4 linked regions of the Homo sapiens genome follow. The protein of the gene in region 1 interacts with the protein of each later gene in a biochemical or structural test. Each region holds a gene or a part of one and is shown on either strand. Other genes may lie near its edges.

What was found. The genes of interacting proteins can lie anywhere in the genome.
Region 2: the proteins of SIPA1L2 (region 1) and ZNF831 interact in a test that uses a peptide from one of them, tested with the Homo sapiens proteins (one large-scale study listed by IntAct).
Region 3: the proteins of SIPA1L2 (region 1) and TMEM151B interact in a test that uses a peptide from one of them, tested with the Homo sapiens proteins (one large-scale study listed by IntAct).
Region 4: the proteins of SIPA1L2 (region 1) and PDGFRB interact in a test that uses a peptide from one of them, tested with the Homo sapiens proteins (one large-scale study listed by IntAct).

Annotation. Positions count from the first base shown.
Region 1 is NC_000001.11:232,458,554-232,463,244, forward strand, and holds part of SIPA1L2 (signal-induced proliferation-associated 1-like protein 2), read right to left. Parts: intron 2,609-4,691; coding exon 2,334-2,608; intron 1-2,333.
Region 2 is NC_000020.11:59,191,199-59,195,542, reverse strand, and holds part of ZNF831 (zinc finger protein 831), read right to left. Parts: coding exon 786-4,344; intron 1-785.
Region 3 is NC_000006.12:44,268,958-44,273,971, reverse strand, and holds the start of TMEM151B (transmembrane protein 151B), read right to left. Parts: upstream 3,523-5,014; 5' UTR 3,230-3,522; coding exon 3,095-3,229; intron 907-3,094; coding exon 466-906; intron 1-465.
Region 4 is NC_000005.10:150,131,124-150,135,467, forward strand, and holds part of PDGFRB (platelet-derived growth factor receptor beta isoform 1 precursor), read right to left. Parts: intron 3,894-4,344; coding exon 3,627-3,893; coding exon of another isoform or gene 3,593-3,626; intron 2,886-3,592; coding exon 2,758-2,885; intron 2,638-2,757; coding exon 2,463-2,637; intron 1,820-2,462; coding exon 1,627-1,819; intron 972-1,626; coding exon 856-971; intron 1-855. UniProt on the Homo sapiens protein: Tyrosine-protein kinase that acts as a cell-surface receptor for homodimeric PDGFB and PDGFD and for heterodimers formed by PDGFA and PDGFB, and plays an essential role in the regulation of embryonic development, cell proliferation, survival, differentiation, chemotaxis and migration.

The DNA.
Region 1 (4,691 bases):
AGAAATGTTATTTTTTAACCCAAAGGAAGCGCAAGGTAACATTTTTGTCCAATTCTATAGTAATCGGCTGCTAGGACAGATAAAAGACTTGATACAAAGGCAGATAAAAGACTGATTCTTATCTTAATAATTAAAAACCTGTATTTCTACTAAGGAAGACAGAAATCTTACTGTATGAAAAAATTTCTAACAAATGCTGGAAAATGTACTATAAAAGAATTTTACATATACAGTACTTTAGCTTTTAAGGCCTAAAGGATTTGCCTTTTGTTATTTCCAAGACTCATTTTTAATAAATTAATTTTTTATTTTCTTTGGACTCATAGCAGTACATGTGATTCATGGGACTCTGGAAAAGCAGACAGATTCAACTAGGCAGAATCAGGCAAGGCAATAAGAAACATCTTAACACGGGACTGATACTCTACAGAGAAAACTTAGTTTCTTAAATCCTTATTTTATAAACACACTGGGCAAATACAGGAAACAAGGCCACAGAAAGTGAGGCTGGAGGCAAATGCTAAGATAACTAATAGAGAAAGATTTTTGCAAGATTTTGCACATTAACCATAGAGGAAGACAGTGTAAGTGGCTTTTTTTCCTAAAAGGAGATCATGGTTTAGCTGATCTATCCAATATGGCAGCCACTAGCAACACGTGGCCAATTAAATGTAAATTAATTAAAAGGAAAAATTCGTTTCCTAAGTTGCACTACAGTTCATGTACGTAATAGCCACATGTGGTTTGTGGCTACTGCTCTGAACGGTACAGACACAGATCACTGTAGAAAGTGCTAATGGAGAGTGCTGGCTTAAAGGAGGAAGAAAGGAAACAGAGAAAGGAGAGAGTATGACCTAGGTTAGTAAGTCCAGAAAGTAGACCCAACAATCCTACTATCTTTGGATAATCAGAATTTATTTTTTCATATGAAAGAAATTAAAATGAATATGCTAAAGTTTTATTTATTATTATTATTTGAGATGCAGTCTCACTCTGCCACCCATGCTGGCGTACAGAGGCACGATCTCAGCTCAGTGCAGCCTCGACCTCCCAGGCTCAAGGGATCCTCCTACCTTCCCCTTCTGAGTAGCTGGGACTACAGGTGCACACTACTGCACCTGGCTAATTTTTGTATTTTTTGAAGAGATGGGGTTTTGCCATGTTGTCCAGGCTGCTCTCAAACTCCTGGGCTCAAGCGATCTGCCCACCTCGACCTCCCAAAGTGCTGGGATTACAGGTGTGAGCCATAGCGCCCAGCCCCTAAAGTTTTATTTTTCTAAATTAAATGTGTGGGGCAATTATGCTAGAAGGTTCTAAGTGCTTTACATGTGTTACTTTATTTCATCTTCATTGAAATCATAGGAGGTAGGCGATATAATAATCCCATCTTACAGAGAGTAAGTGAGACTTAGAGAGAGTGTGTGAGTTGCCCCAGGCCACACAGCAAATTCCTGGATTCCAAGCATACTTTGTCTCTCAAAAGCCAGAGCTCTTAAGGCTGCCTGTACGAACTCCATTTGGGAATGAAGATAGAGGGAAGGTGCTCTAGATACTACCACCAGTCATGCATTAACACAAGTAGTGGGCCACAGCCTCAATAAACGGCTCCTTCTTAATTAGCATTCTTTCTCCTTTTGGCCTAATATTTTATGTTGGGCATGATTATTTTCTATTAGTAATGTAATAGTATTGCTTTCTAACCCCGTTCTTATCCCAGCCCTCCACCTATCCGCCTCTGAACCTTCCAAGTCTAGCCGTTCCTTTTCATCTATTTCTCCTGACAGTTTATGATAACGCCCTGAACCAGTTCAACATCTCTCAAGCTTCAATTGAGAATGGAGTATTTACCACAGAGAGTACCTGTGCTGTTCCAACATTCTTTCATACCTACAACTATTGGTCTGTTAAATATTTTTTAAATAATCAATGGCTTCATGTTATGGGAAGAAATTCTAACTGAATAGTTAAGTATTTAATGTGCTCAAGGCTGAGCTGTGATACAGAATTATTTCCTCTTAGATATAAGAGGTCCAGGGGAACCAGGCAGGTGCTCTTCCCCTTAGTTCAGAATAGCTCAGCTTTAATGTAGTCAATGTTCCATTAAAATGCTTAGCAAATTATTTTTTATCATCTATTACATATTTTAAAGCTCCTTTTCAATTCCTCGAACGAGTGACATCCCAACAACATTGTACAAATGAGTGACATCCCAGAACACTGTACAAAGACACACTTGACTGCATTTTCTGAGGACCTTGCAGGAGCACTGAGGACAGCCACCTGCTACAGAGGCAAAGGAGGAGTGAGCATTACTTGGGCCTCCCACGCCTTACCTTCGGGGCGAGCCGTCATCATGGGGCTGGATGATGACCACCTTCACAGTCACAGAAGTACGGAGCAGGTCGATCATCTGCTCGTGGGTCAGAGTGGCCACGGCTACTTTGCAGATCTCCACGAGGCGGCTCCCTTGGCGAAGGCCAGCCTTCCAGGCAAAGCCAAAAGGTTCCACATCTGCGACAATTCCTTCAAAATTCACATGGAAGCCAAGCTGGCCCAGCCCGTTCCTCCTCAGGGTCATTTCCACAGTCTCGCAGCCTCTCGTCACTATCTAAGGGGGAAGGAGACTGTTAGAGATGCCCTTCCTGCCCAAGCTGCCATGGGGCTCTGCCAAAGGTGCACGTATGGGCCTCCATGCCAGCCCTCTCCCTTGGGCCCTCGCAGCCCAGCCTGTCTCTCTCTGCCTTTTCCTCAAACTGTCCAAGTGACAGGACAAGGACACATTTAAGTTCAGAGCTGATCACAATTAACATTTGCATCAAGTGCAAAGAAAATAACAGAAGCAAAGCAATGGTTTCATTCTTCATTCTAAGTCATATCTGTTCTTGATACAGGTGTCCTGCTTTCTTAGATGTCACTGACCCAGAGCTTGAGAGCTTCAGATGGGCTCAGATAATTCCCGTTTTTCCTTTATTAGGTAAATTGACTTGACTTTTAAGCATATAAATCCCATCGTTCTAGATGGATTTTTGCAATGGAAAACCTGTAAAGACTTTGTGGACCATTACAAGTTTCAACCAGCAAGCACTAAAAACCATGAGACAATTTATTCATCCCAAGCAAAGAAAAACACCCCAAAGCACTTGAAAGCTAACGCTTAAGAGCCCACTCTGAGGTTCAGGAAGGGCAGTGGCAGAAAGTCAGAGCTTTAGGAAAACTCTAAATGTTCTCTACGCACCAGCCCTAGGGACATACTGTGGAGTGTTCTGTCCCCTAGGGTCCTTCTCTTGAGGACAGACAACTGCCTATGCTTGCCTGAGTGGTGAGGACCACTCAGATCCATGGTGGGGGCAGGCCAGCCAGACTCCTTGGCCATCTGTTCACAAGGCAAGTGTGTAGGATGGTGCTCTGGCAGGCAGCAGACAGACCCTCTGTGCTTATGGGCTGCCTCTCCTCCACTAGGCCTGTCTCCTAGGGGCTGAGGGCAGCCCCAAGCAATGGAAGCCTCAGTGTATGTACCTTACTCAAGAGTGAGAGAGAGTCAACAGCAGTTCCACAAAAAGGAACATGAAAGAAGAATGGTGGATTGCATCCCACTTGGTACATTAAAGCACCACTAATGCAGCCCTCAAAAGCACTCACCGAGCATAGTTTACATCCAATGAAAGAAAAACATGGGCTCATTAAGTATCACCCGATGACTATGACCTCACCTATCTGTGGGAATTTCAAGTTGGGAGGTATCATACTCCTATCCCCAAAAGCCCAGAGGCAATGTATGAAGTTTCAGTTTAATGAACACTCCATTTCTATGAAACATGCTCTGACTACATAGATACCTATTTAATAAGACCTATGACAGTAAGTACAGCTGTGGGACTGGGGCTGGTTCATGTATCACCACTGTGTCTGATGTTTCCATGGTTACCACAAGTGCACACAATGCCAATCAGCTTTTCCCAGACAGGCATGACAGTTCACGACTCAGCAAAATGCGGAAAGGGGACTGCTGGTTTTAGTTAGTGATGATGTTTTAGAATATTGACGTTTCTAAAGTCATGAACTGAAGTAACTAAAACTTGAAGAAGTAGTTCTGTAATAGGCACAACACAAATAAATTTTGGTCACTTCTTTTTCAACTTTGTTCTAAGCAATCCTATCAAAAGACGACACATAAGATGTACCCAGCCTTCTTTCAAATATCAATGCGATTATCAGGTGAAGTTTATCATCCATGTATCAGGCTGAAGAGTTATTGGCTGAGCCTTTCCAGAGTCCTCCAGCTCTGGCTCTTCTGCTCATTTCCTCCAATCACCTGCCACCTCCCCTACTTTGTCTTTTTGCTATTTCTTTATCCCCTCTGTTTATTGCTTCCTAACATCCCCAAAGTCTGAAGTAAGGTGTTCTCCATGTATTTGGACTTCTTCCATGGACCCAATTATCACACGAAAATTGTAGTCTCCAAGCCAGGACTGGCTATGTAATTTGTGGGGCCACAAGAAAAATCAAAATGCGAGGCTCCTTATGAAAAAATTAGTAAGTATTTCAAGATGGCAATGGCAGAGCATTCAACCAAGCACGAACTCTTCTGAGAGCGGGTCCCTGTGCAACTGCATGGGTTGCACATCCGTGAAGTGAGCCCTGCCTGGCCCTCTAGGAACAAACTCTCATTCTGCTCCTGTACTGTTACCTGC
Region 2 (4,344 bases), on another chromosome or scaffold:
CCCTACTGACTAACCCGCTACTCTCAAGATGAAAACAGCACTCCCCACAACTTTGGGTTCCACCTAGGGAAAGCCGAACAGCCTGCAAGACTCTGGTCTCCGGGCCTTTGTCACTGTCCACAAAGGTTAAATGACTGCTGAGCCTCCAGGACCGTCCTCAGTGGCCGCGGCCCAAGCCACTCCAGAGCAGGACTAAGCCCTCAGTCATCACAACCAGGTGCGTGAACCCCCTCTCAAGGTGGAGCTCTGCATTATCATTTCTTCACCAAGTGAGAACACCTGTGAGCATCCACCACATTTCCCCCTTTTCTCTCTGCCCCCAGGAACCTCAGAGAGAGGGCTGAGTCCAATCAACAGTAATTCCTTCTCCAGAATCCCCAGTATAAAGACTCTCTCAATTATTGGGAGTCTCTGGCTTATAATCTTAGAATGATCCAGAGAGCTCACCTCTCTGATGGAGTGTTTCATTTTACTTTTTGCTTCTGTTACCAGGAAGCTCAGTTAAATTTTACATTTGGTTATGAAGACTATCTCACCTCATGTCTTGAGTACAGTAATTCTTTCCTTTGGAATTTATGTTTTCCGCAACTCTGTTTTGGTTTGCATTTGGGCCTTTATTCCTTCCTGCTGTCTATGTGGTATCCCCAGCCTCCCTCAGGAACAAGCAAGCAGTGAACAGCAGATGCTACATGGGACGGCTTCAGACTTCCTTCCCTCATGAGAGGTCTTACGGGATAACAACATGCTCTCTCAACCCCGGGCCCTGGGGCAAAGCCCAGCTTTACCTTGGACATCTGCGCCGGCCCTCCTTCTCCAGGGCTTGTCCAGGTCCATCCTCCATTGCTCCCAGGAGGGCCATTGGGACCCTCATCTCGGAGGCTGCTACCAGGAAAGTGCACCGCCAAGTACACAGATGCCGCCTTTGCCTTCTGCTCCGCGGGCAGAGGGACACTGCGGCTCAGGCAACACCACGTGAGCCGCGGCTCAGCCTTCAGTGAGGGAAAGGGGTTTTGGGTGCTGTGGGGACTGCGGGTGCTGTGGCTCCGGGACGTCCCTGAGTGGGAAGACAAGGCCAGCTCTGGCCAGCCTGGGGGCACACCCTGAGGCCGAGTGAGGGCAGTGAGGAAGGAGCCAGGCTGGAGGGGGGAACACGGGTCGGGGCCCACCAGGGGCCCTGAAGAAGGATCTTCTGGGGCATTCCCAGGAGGCTCCCCCAGCTCCCAGTTGGGTACCCAGGGATTCAGGACATCCCCAGAGAGCCTGGCCCTTGCCAAAGTGCTGCCCATGCAGAGGCGATGGATACGGTGGCTGTCACCCTCCATGTCCTGAACTAAGTGTGCCTCACACGTTGGAGTGGGCGGGGAGGAGGTAGCCTCCCTGGGAGCCCCTGGTGCTGAGATGGGCAACTCCCTGGCTGCTGGCCTGCTAGTGGCCATCCTGTCCCCCTTGTCCCCCCCCAACTGTGCCCCTTTTCTCCCATCCTGTGGCCTGGAACAGCTGGGGTCCTCCAGGATGCTGTCCGCCTCACCTGGGGAGGGGCCTGAGGCTGGGCTGGGAGAAAGAGGGGTCCCCAGTCCTGACCCAACAAATGATGCCCGTTCTTCAGGCCACCCACTGCTGCAGAGAGAGTCCTGGCTGTGCCTTGGTCCCCAGGGAATGGGCAGTGGTAAGGGGGTCTCTGCCTGAGGTAACCTGAGGAGGTACTTGGGGGAAAAGGCATTATCTGCCAGGGCAGAGAGCACTCTAGGAGCCTGAGGTGGGGTGGCCAGCGAGGGGTGCTCTGCGGGGGCTGGGGCTGCAGGATGCAGTGGGGTAGCCTTGTCCCTTGGCCCCACCCTCTTCAGGGCAACAGAAGCAGCAGCCAAGGAGGCTCCAGAGGACTCCAGAGGCTCGCCCACCTGCCTGGCACTCTCCTTTGAGCCCCCTGGCACCTCCCCGGGATCGGCATCCTGCTTCTGGGATGACAAAGAGGCAGGCTGCGTGGGCCCACCTGGGGTCTCTGCGCTCACAGGCTCTGGTTGCTTCCAGCTGTGCAGGTCCTCCACTTTCAGCTTCTTCCTCTCTGAGGGGAGCTTGTCCTCCCCTGAGCCCCTGCTGGGCCATCTCAGGACAGTCTGGGCCCACAGGCAGGTCTCCTGAACATCCCCCACACCTCGGGCACCTCCTTCCAGCTTGGGGTCCGGCCAAACTGGCCTGGGAGCCTCTACATCACCCCCTTTGAGGGGGCCAGGTGCTGGGGGCATCTGCCACCCCAGTTCCAGCCTCCCATTTGGAGAGACCAGGGGGCTCCTACTGCCTGAACAGGGACTGTCTCTGCCACCCAGTGCAGGGGATGACACAGCCTCTTCCACCCTGGGTCGGTCACTGTCTCCTCTCCTGGCCACCGTCTCCCCATGCTTAGTGGGTTCAGTCACCAAGGAGGCCTCCAGGGCTGGTGGATTTCCCCAAGGCTCTGGCGTTGCCCCTGCGGATATGTCCTCATGGACAGGGGTCCTCCTGTCTTGGGTGGGGACTGTGCCTGAGCTCCCTGCTGCCTCTTTCTGCAGAGGAAAGCCCAGTTCTGCCCCACTGCCCATTCCCACCTCCCTGGCTTTCTTGCCTCCATGGGGACTGGCTTTCATTTTCTGGTAGATCCTTTTGAACGTCTCATCCCCGTACACCTGCCACTTCTCCTGGGAGAACATCTTCAGCCTTCTCTGGCCGCACTTCCTGCCGCCCGCTCTGCCCTTGCCGGCCATGGCCTCCCGCGCAGCAGTTCTCTTTGCGTCTGTGTCCTCTGCGGGCACCAGGGCATCGCCAATGGGGGTGCCTGGCAGGTCCTCCACCGCGGCCTGTCTGACCAGGGCCCGGGGATGCCCACTGGGAACGTCAGTCGAGCTTAGTCCCGAGCGGCAGCCCAGGCGGGCTGGGCCGGGCCTGGGGCTCAGAGGCTTCTGCGTCCTGGACCAGGGGTCCCGGGGCTCCCTGGGCTCCAGCCACGTCCTGGAGCCCTCGACGAAGGGCAGCGAGTTGCTCCTGGTGACGGGGACACATTCCACGGTGGTGGAGAGCTGAGTGGGGACGGAGTGGAAGAAGAGGGGCCGAGACTTGTCTGGGGGCGTCCAGGTGGAGCGCACGGGGCCCGGGGCCCTCCTACGGCCTGGCTCCAGCGCGCGGATGTCAAAGTGGAAGGAGTCCTTGTAGGTGTAGGGCGTGGGCAGGTCGATGCTGCCCTGTTTGGACAGCCCGGTCTTCCGGGGCCGCACGTTGTCCAGCTGGGCATCGTCCACCACCGCCTGGTTGTGGGAGATGAGCTGGGCGATGCGCTCCTCCAGCCGCTTCTTCTCCAGCTCCAGGCCGGCTTCTCGCGCCCCGGGCTCGGCCCCTGCGACCCCTGGCCCCGGGCCCGGGCCGCCCTCCCCCTCGGACTCGGCGCTGTGCTCCGAAAGGCTGTGCAGGGGGCTGCAGGGCGCATGCGGCTGCTCCGCGCTGTCGGAGCGCGACAGGTACCCCGAGTCGGTGCTCTCACACTTCCGCAGCCGGCCCTCGGGGGCCTTGGCATCCCAGGGCTTCTCCGCTGCCGTCGCCTGCTGCCGCTGCAGGGCGCACGGCTTCCCGGCGGTCGGCGACTTCTGCTCTGGCAACTTACGCCAGGGTTGTGTGCTGGCCGCTGGGAGCCCAGGTGACGCCATGGGGGCAGAGTCCCAAGGAGCCTCTCTGTCGGCAAATGCGGACCCTGGACAGGGAGCAGCTTCGGTCCTCACATCCAGGTTCTTGGCAAGTAGGGGCACGTGGGCACCCGGAGAAAGGGGTCTCTCCGAGGCGCCTTCGTGCATCCCCTGGCACCTGCTCTCGCCCCTGCCCTCTGGTCTGGGGGGCTCTCCGGCCTTGTCCCCTTCCTCCAGGAGGCCGCCCCCGGCGCCCTCGGACTCTGAGGACAGCCGGGAGTTGTTGAGGTGCGTCTGCGTCCGCCTGTGCTTGTAGAGATTGCTCTGGGTCTTAAAGGCGATGCCGCAGGTGGCACACGGGAAGGGCCTCTCACCCGTGTGGGACCGGATGTGCTTCTCTAGAACACTGGGCTTCAGGCAGTCGCGACCACAGTGCGGACACAGGTACTTGCCCGCATTCCGCACCTTGCCTGGGCTGCCCAGCGTGGGGCCCAGGCCCGGCGACAGGACAGGCAGAGTGCCCACGATGTTCACCGTCAGCGTAGGGGCCGCCGGCTTCCCCACCTGGGTGGGGCCAGGCCCTTCAGGCTGCAGCACAGGGCTGAGTATGAAGGGCACGTTGCCCCCATCTAGGCTGCCCGTCACTAGCGGGGCGCGGGGCTGGAGGCCCCCGGGAGGCACCGTGTGGTACAGTGGG
Region 3 (5,014 bases), on another chromosome or scaffold:
AAGTGCTGAGGTTACAGGCCTGAGCCACCACACTCTGCCATTAATCACTAAGTAGATCCATTAAGCACTAAACAGTATAGAGATCCTGGAGCCAGATTGATTGAGTTCAAGTCTCATCTCCACCACATACTGCCTATTTGACCTTAGACACATTACTTAAACTCTCCAGGCCTCAGTTTCCTCATCTGCAAAATGGGAATACCTGCCTACATCATAGGGTTGTTATGAGGGTTAAATAAATGATTTGATGTGTGTAAAATACTTAGAGCAGAGCCTGGCTCCTGGTCGGTTTTTGCTGTTATGATTATGGTTGTTGCTATTGCCCTGCTGTTGCAATGCTCATGGGAGCTCACTGCTGCCTTTTGCTCCTCCCACCTTCCCCCCAGGGAGGTGGGGAGGGAGTGAGGCAGCACGTAAGTGCCACCTCCCATGTTGAATGTCCTGCACTCCCCACCAGCTCCTCACCTGGGTGGTGGTATAGGCGTCTCCATTGCGGTATCTGGTGACCTGGCGGGTGCGGCGGACATAGTGGTAGCTGATGGCCTTCCACCAGATGCAGGGCGTGGCTTGCTGCATGCGGCCCACACGTTCCCGCACACTGCTCACATCAACACGGTGCTGCAGCTCATGGCGGGCTTGGCAGTGCCAACACTCCACCAGGTAGACGGCGTACAACATGAGCAGGAAGGCCAGGGGGATGTAGACATAGCCGTTGGAGCAGGGGCTGTCATGGTACATGAGGCTGTTGCCCTGGTAGGCGCTGCTGAAGGTGAGGCGCGTCACTGTGGTGACGTGGCACCAGGCCACTGCCCCCAGGCAGCCGTACATGAGCAGCGAGAGCAGGAGGCACTTCCAGTGGGACTCACGGCAGAGGGACTTGGTGAAAGAGGGCTGGATGGGACGCTGCTGCTCAGGTGGGCAGGGAGAGGGGCCAAGATGAGTGGGAAGTGAGAGCAGGCAGGACCCAGCACAGAGATGGATACGGGGATGGAGGGGCAGAGGCCAGCACCAGAGATAACAGGCAGAGAGAAACAGGGATATGGAGAGAAAAGGTGAGACCAAGATGGGAGCCAGGGGCCAGAGGTAGAAACAGAAGTGACACAGAGCAAGCCAGAGGACAGGAAAGGGGACCGGAATGCCAGTACAGGAGAGTGCAGAGAGAGACACCCCAAGAGGCAGAGAAGGATCAGAGCCAGAGATAGAGGCCCAGGCAGCAAACACAGATGGATAGGATGGTACCCAGAGAGCATCCGAAGACAAACACAAAAATGGCAATGAAACAGAAGATGTGGACAGGGAAGACAGGGGAGGACAGACAGACAGGCATCAGCGAAGGAAGGTCCCCAGCCCAGACCCCTTCCAGGTCCTCTAGAAAAGGGGGAGGGACCCACTGACATCACTTCCCCACTTAACAAGTGGGGCCCTCACTTCCAGATTTTTTTCAGTCCTAGGTTCTAGAGGAGCTACTCCCCTCTGACCCATCCACCTCCCTAACCCTCACAATTAGCCTAACACGTCCTTTGGATAAGGGCCTCCAGAGAACCCCAGGCCCAGTCTCATTCCCCATGTTCTGGACCCTGGTTCCCCTGTGAGTCTCCCTCCTGCACCCTGACATCCTTCCCTTTGTCCTAGGATGGGAGGGAGGGGGCTGGGGTCCCTGAGCGGCAGGCAGTCCAGGAGGAGGTATCCAGAAGGGCAGAGGCATGTGGCTGAGGAGAGGACAGGCATAGGGGATGTGGGACTGGGGTAGCGAGGACAACGTTTGAAGCCCAGCAATTTATCAAGAGAAAATTATTTTTGGTACTCTCCTGGAGCCTGTCTGTTAAAGCTCCTGGCACATTCTGTCCCAGGGTTGGCCCAGGAGTTGTTTACATGTCTGGCTCCCCACTACACTGGGTACTCCTGAGGGCCCATGCTTCATTCTCTTTGCATCCTAGGTGCCTACCATGGTGCTGGCCCCCAGCAGCCACATCCTAATTGAGTGTTGAGTTTAATTTCTTGTAGTGGCCTCTGTTTTCCCACCCCTCCTCTGTGCTGTCTAGCTTTAGGAACCCATCCCCCACCACACACACACACACACACACACACACAACCTCCTGCTGGGATCCTGACTTACCCCCTCAATTCCTCAGGCCTGACCTAGAGGCCAGCCAGGAAAGAGAGGAAAAGAGTGGAAAAGAAGGGTACAGTAATAGGCATCGGTCCCTGGATCTAGAAGTATGGATAGTTAGGCGAGCTAGGAAATAGCACACAGTACATGTGGACAAGGAGATTAGGGTACATGTGCCTTTCGGGGAGCCTTGTCCTTAGGAGGTATGAACATACGGGCCCCTTCGTGTGCCTACCTGGTTATGTGCTTGTCCCCATGTGGGTACCTCTGAAAGGGGCTTTACCTGCAGGCCCATCCCCGCTTGTGTGCCTCTGCCCTAGTACAGGGTGCATGCGTGTGCACAAGTGTGCATGGGAGGCTGGAGTGGGGGTGCTCCTGGTACTTTCCTCCGTCTCTTTGTCTTCAGGTTCAGAGGACTGAGTACTAGGGACCCCAACTAGGGATATGAGGAAGCAGCAGGAGCCTCGTGAGAGAGAGGTGCACACCCCCCCCCACACACACACACACACACTCCCAATGACCACAGGCGGGACCCCCCGTACACATCTGACCTCCTTAGGGTCCCAGATCAGGTACCACCACCACTTCCCCATGGTACCCTCCTCGTTCTGTAGCCCGTACAAGCCGCCCTTCCTGGCCTTCAAGGTAGCATCCTCCTCTGTGAGACAGGATCCCCGCCACCGTCCCCACCCCGGTAGAGCATAGCCCCCACTCTCATAAGCCCAGGATCCGCGAGGCTCCGCCCCTAGGCCCCTCCCCCTGCCCGGGACCCCTGAGCCCCGCCCCCGGCGCGGCCCCTTCCCCGGCACCGCGGACAGCTCCGGCCGCCGGGTGGGGGCGGCGGCGCGGACTGCGGCTGCAGCGGCCGGCTCGGGGTGCGGGGCGCCGGCCGCGCTGCGGCGGAACCAGCGGGGGACGCGTGCGATGGGGGATGGGGGGCCAGGCTGCGGCCGCGCCCGGGGAAGGGGCGCCCTAGACTCTCACCTCCTCTCGGGCGGGGCCCTCGTCCGCCGCCGCCGCTGCCGCCGCCGCCGTGAGCTCCTCCGAGACCCCGGGGCCGCCACCGCCGCCGCCGCCGCCGGCGGCGCTCTCTCCCGCGGCCGAGCCAGGGGGGGACATGGCGTAGAGGGGGCGCGTCGAGCTCAGGACCTCCCGGGGGGCTGCCAGGGGCCGGGGGCATCCTGCGCGGGCCCTGGGGAGAGGACGGGAGGGGGCGGGGCCCTCGCTGCTCCCCACCCCCCGCCGGGGGAGGGGGCCCGGAAAGGGCACCGGGAGTAAGGGGCTGGGGGCTGAGGGTGGGAGGCAGGCTGGGGGGCCGGGCCGGGGGGGGCCGGGGCCGGGGGCGGGTGTCACCTTGAGGCCCTCGCGGCGCCGCTCCGCCTCCCGCCCGCTCCCGCCGCCGCCTTTTGTCTGAGCCGAGCTGGAGCCAGCGCGCCCCCCCTTTCCTGCCAGCGCAGCCGAGCCCCGCCCCCAGCCCCCCAAACTCCGCCTTCCCAAGCCTACCTAATAACCACCCCCCGAAGGGGTAAAGCAACAGGGACTCCCCACACCTCTTCCCCGCTCCCAGCCCTGCTCACTGCACCTCCCTCCCGCGCTCCTATCCTGGGAGAATCTGTGCCGCAACCCCTCTCCATCTGTTCTCCGTGGACTCGGTGCCCGAGGTTCAACCAACAGCACCCCCCCACACACACACACATCTCTGGTTCCCCCAAGTTCCCAGGGCAGAGGAGTGGGGAGAGGAAATTGATTCTTGGAACCCTAGGGAAGATCCTTACTCCCAGTTTCGTGGTGAAGGGTTAAGGCAGAAGCTAGACTTCCAGAGGAATGGAATAGGGGGAAAGGGAAGAGATTGAAGCTAGATGTGGGAAAGGACTAACAGAGGGCAGAGGGGAGGGCATTGGAACCGGCCTTCACTGAACCATCTTTCTTCCCTAAAAGAACAGCTCCAGAGAAGCAGTGAAGTGTGTGCAATACCCTAGGCTGGAGGGCAGGAAACCTGAGTTCTAATTCTGAATTCTGTATCTGTCATTAAGGAGTTATGTGACCTTGGGCAAGTGCCTTCCTGTCTCTGAGCCTTAATTTCTTCATCTGTGCAGTGAGGAAGTTGACTGGACAATTTCTAAGGCTCTGACTTGTAGGTGTAGGAAGCAAGCCAGGCTGAGCCACTGCAGGCAGCCTATCCTTTCAGGCCATCCACCCCACACTGCTTTTCCCTGTATCCCCTGGCACAGCAGGAAGGACCCTGACATTTATTCATTCATTCATTTCTGGATGTCTCCATTCAGTAAACAGGTGTTGGGTACCTATTGTGTGCCCAGTACAGAAATGAAACACAGTTTCCTTCCTGCAAGGAGCACAAAGTCTAATGGGGAGAAAAGAACATGAAAAACAACCATTATGAAGAATATAATAAAAGCCATGCATGATCAATCTTGTGCATACACAGTCACTGTGGAATCCTACTATGTGTCATTAGAGTCTTTGACATACAGTAACTGTTCTCCCCAATTACTCACAGGGAACCAAGGCAGAGGGAGAGTGAATGGCTTACTCAAGGTCACCTGCTAGCACTCACAGAGCTAGTCCTAGAATTCAGATCTTTCCCACTCAAAATCTATGGGGAATATTTGTGGGTAGGAAGTTAGTTTGGGGCAAAGCCTCGATGTCTGATTTTGGGGGATAGGGTACAAACACACTGATCTGCCCAGGATGTTCCTTCCCCTTGTTGGGGACAGGAGAGCCACTGCTCCCACCCCTCTAGTCCCACTCCTGGCCCTGCCTTCATTTTACTACTCTTCCCTTTCCAGGTGAGGTGAAGGTGGCTCTCTGTCCACCTATTGCTTAGAGCTATCCAGCCTGCATGGTCCTCTCCAGGTTGATGGGTCCATTCTCCCTGCCCAGAGG
Region 4 (4,344 bases), on another chromosome or scaffold:
TCATTATCATGTCATTTCTCTGCTCAAAACCCTGCCATGGCTCTTCATTTCGGTCATAGTAAAAGCCAAAGTCTGCACCAGGCCCACAAAGACCTATGCGATTTGCCCTTCTCCCAGCCCCCACTGCCCTATCCCCGTTCTGACTTCATCTCCCACCACTCTCCCCAACAGCCCTGTTCCAACCACACAAGCCTTTCAGTGATTGCTCTGGCCTTTGCACTGCCCGAGGTACCCTTTCCCCAAATATCCACTAAGCTAATGTCCTCACCTTCTTCAGGTCTTCATGCAAATGTCACTTCCTCAGCCCTGATCACTGTATCAAAAATGCAACTCACACCATCACTCTGTGCCCAGCACTCTCAACCTTCCCTACCCGGCCCCTGTTTTTCCTCTCCCGCAGTGTTAGTTACCTTCTAACCTATGTAATTTGCTGGGGTTTTCCTCCCTACTGTTAGTGTTTGTCTTCCCCTACTTGGATGCAAGCTGCACAAAGGCAGGGAGGGAAGTTCAAGAACCTTGAAGAGACAGGCATATGGTAGTTGCTCAATAAATACCTATCGAGTTAATAGTACAGTATAAGTGGAATGTGAGAAGGGAAAATCATGGCCTTGGTACCTAAGTGCCTGAAGTTTTGGAAACACCAATCTAGCCAGATGGCCTCCTTATACAGCTGGGGAAACTGAGGCCCAGAGGCCAGGTTCACACGGCAGTGGGTCAGTGGCCTAGAATCCATCTCCTGAGTTCCAGGCTCCCTCTCCCACTCCTCCCATGGGTGGGTGGACAGTGCAGGAAGGGAGAGGGAACGGGGGCAGGGAGGGGAAGGAGCAGGGACATGGCGAGGGGCGTGCTCATCACCATTGATCTGTAGCTGGAAGGAGAGCTGGACCTCAGCATCCTCATGGAAGGCCCGCATGGTGTAGTGGCCAGCCTCTGCCACCTTCACGCGAACCAGTGTCAGCTCTGACACATACCTGGGGAGCAGGAAAGGCAGCTGTCAGAGTCGGAAGGACTCTTACAGTTCTCCCCACCCTCCTGGTATAAAGAGGAACAAGGCCCAGGGAGGGGAAGGGCTTGCCAAGGTCATCTCGGCATTGGTAGCAGAGCCGGGACTCAAACCAGGTCTCGTAAATCCTCACCCACAGGCAGTTCCCCTAGGCCAAGAGGGAGGGTTGAGATGAACTGTGGGTGGGGGTGGGGAGCATTGAAGGAAAGTCCTATTTCTCTCCCCTTCAGAAAGGTGGACACTGCTCCATCCTAACCTACCACAGTCTCTGTCAGCCAGCAAATCTCCAGCCTCAGGGATACCACAGGCCATGAGTGGCCTGCCTGGCACCCTCTTCCCCAGTCATCTGCCCGTTTACTTCTTGGCTGCTACTGCTGGCCCCACCCATCACAAGGACAACTAAACATCTGGGTGATCATCTGACCGGCGACTGTTTCCTCCACTAGACTAGAAACTCTAGGAGGGATGAACTGTCAGCTCTGGTCGCTGCAGCATCCCCAGCACCTGGCACCTAATATGCTCTCAGAAAGCTGGGCCTAGGTTTGTGGCTGAAAGCCGAGGGCTGCCTGGCGGCTGCAAAGAAAAATAACTTCAAGAATGGGATGGGAGAGCGAGCTGCTCACCGGGTCTCCGACACGTTGCGCGTGGACAGGGCGATTTCGCCAGCGCTGGAGTCGCCCAGGGTGCGGTTGTCTTTGAACCACAGGACAGTGGGCGGTGGGTAGGCCTCGAACACTACCTGCAGTGTCCGGCTCCGATGCAGCTCAGCAAATTGTAGTGTGCCCACCTCTCCCAGGAGCCGCACGTAGCCGCTCTCTGCAAGGGGTGACCGTCAGGGGCGGGGCCCTGGGGGCAGGGCACCAACTGAATCCCAAAGGAGGCCAGCCTGTGGGGTGGGGCTTCAGGCCTGGGGACCGTGCCAGCCATGGAGTTTCCGGAGCTGAGGTTGAAATTGGGCTGGGGACAGGGCCTGGAGAAGGGGCCGAATTTGGGGCTAATATGGATGCTGGGGCCAGCTCCCAGGTTGGGAACAGAGTTGTACTAACAGTTCTCTGTTCTGGGTCAGTACTGTGGCTGATGCTGGGACTAGTGATAAGGTTGAATTTGGGGATGGGGCTTCCCGGACCTGGGATGGCAGTTGGGCTTGGAAGTCAGGTTGGGGCTGGGGCTCTGGCTAGTCAGAAAGTCTAGGTTGAGATAGGGTTGGATTTGGGGCTGACACTACATTTTGGTTTGGGGTTTATCCTGGAATTGGGGTTTTGGTTGGCACAGAGGCTAGCTAGGGCTGCACTGGAGTGTGGCTGACTATACCCCGGGGCTGTGACAGGCACTGGGTCCAGCTCAGCCCTGATCACTGTATCAAAAATGCAACTCTCACCATCACTCTGCACCCAGCAAAGTGGGTGAGGGTGGGGAGCGTTGAAGGAATTGGGGATTGGGCTGAGCCCAAGGCACACACCAACCACGGTGATGTTGATGGCCTTTTCATCCTGATGGTCATTCACACTCTCCGTCACATTGCAGGTGTAGGTCCCCGAGTCTTCTAACTCGGCACTGGGGATGTGCAGGATGGAGCGGATGTGGTAAGGCATATCCAAGAGGAAGTCAGTCACCGGCTCCACCAGCCGCCCACTCTGCAGCAACAGGTTGGGCAGGCCCCCCAAATCAGGAGGGGCCGGGGAGAAATCAGCCTGCAAGCCAGATATCCACCCGTTCCTGGCCCCTCCTCCGACCCCTGCCTGGCCCCACATTACTTCTTTGCGGGGGTATGTCCACTCGAAGTTGACCACCTCATTCCCGATCACAATGCACATGAGGGTGATGTTCTCACCCTGGCGGACCACAGTCTGCACTGCGTTCACAGAGACGTTGATGGATGACACTGGTAGAGAGAGATTGGCTTAGGTCTGGGGAAGTCACCACCAGCCACTAGCACTTCAGCTTGGGGATAGGGTAGGGGGCTAGAGAGGGAAAGGATGACTGATGTAGAAGATTCATTCATTCAACAAATATTTACTGAATACCTACTACATGCCAAGTACTATTCTGGACACTGGAGCAACAGTAGTGAACAAAGTGGACAAAATCTCTGTTCTTATGGAGCTGACGTTCTAGAAGGGATAACAGTCTGGAAATCAAAGTACCCTCTGGAGATCTATGTACAGGAGAAATGTATTGAGCACATAACATGTGCCAGGTACTCTCCATCTTTTATTTAATCTTCACAATTGATCCTATGAGGTAGGCAGCCATTGTTATCCCCACGTTACAAGAGGGGAAGCAGGCTCAGAGAGATTATGTGCTTTGTGTAAAGTCACTCAGACAGGAAATAGCAAAGCTGGGATTTCGACCCAGCTGGCTCTGAAGCTTGTGCCCTCACCGACCATGTTGCACAGGCCAGCTCTGCCACTATCGAATTCTGCGACAGGGGACAAGCTCCATCCTCTCTCTGCGCCTGAGTTTCCCTCTTCTGTAACATGGGGAAAACACTATCTTCCTTCGAAGGCTGTGGTGAGAATCCACTGGGAAGTGGAGTCCCACACTTTGTAAACTGTAAAGGGCTATTCCTCTGTGGAGGGTTATACTTGCCTCTGCTGAGCATCAGGCCAGAAAGGGGGCTCACCCTGGAGTCTGTAGACATAGTAGGCATCAGAATCCACCTCCCTGTCCCCAATGGTGGTTTTGCAGATGTAGCTTCTGTCCTCAAAGATACCAGAAAAGCCACGTTGGTGATCATAGGGGACAGGCAGTGCAACGTCCCCTTTCTTCTCGTGCAGTGTCACCACCAGCTGTGGGTCTGTTACTCGGCATGGAATGGTGATCTCAGTTATTTCCGTGAGAAAGATGAATAGTTCCTCGGCATCATTAGGGAGGAAGCCCACGGTGGGATCTGCCAGGAGTGGAGCCGTGAATAAATCAGGGGAACTGGGTTTCTGGCCATCCCCTGAATTGCTGTGTGGCAAGTCATTTGCCATCTCTGGCCCTCTGTCTCCCCGTTACAGAATAGGGATGCTCCCAGAAGAGCATAAATCAAATGTTAGAGCTGGTCCCTTCCAGCTCTAATGTTTGATATTGACAGTGCCAGGGTAAGAAAGAAGGCAAGTCACAAGTTGAAATGCAGCTGATATCTGGAGCTTGGAGAATGGGGAAGAAGGGATGTGGGGTCAAGAGGGAGCAGATTGGAAGCAGCTGAGAATATAGAGTTCTTGGGAGGCAGGAATAGGGTGACTGGCAGGGAGCAGGCAGATCACCCAGACCAAGGAGTGGGTGCGAACACACTCCCCGACTGAGCCAGGCTGGTTCCATGATTGTCTGCTTTTCTAGGATGGCTGCATTTCACA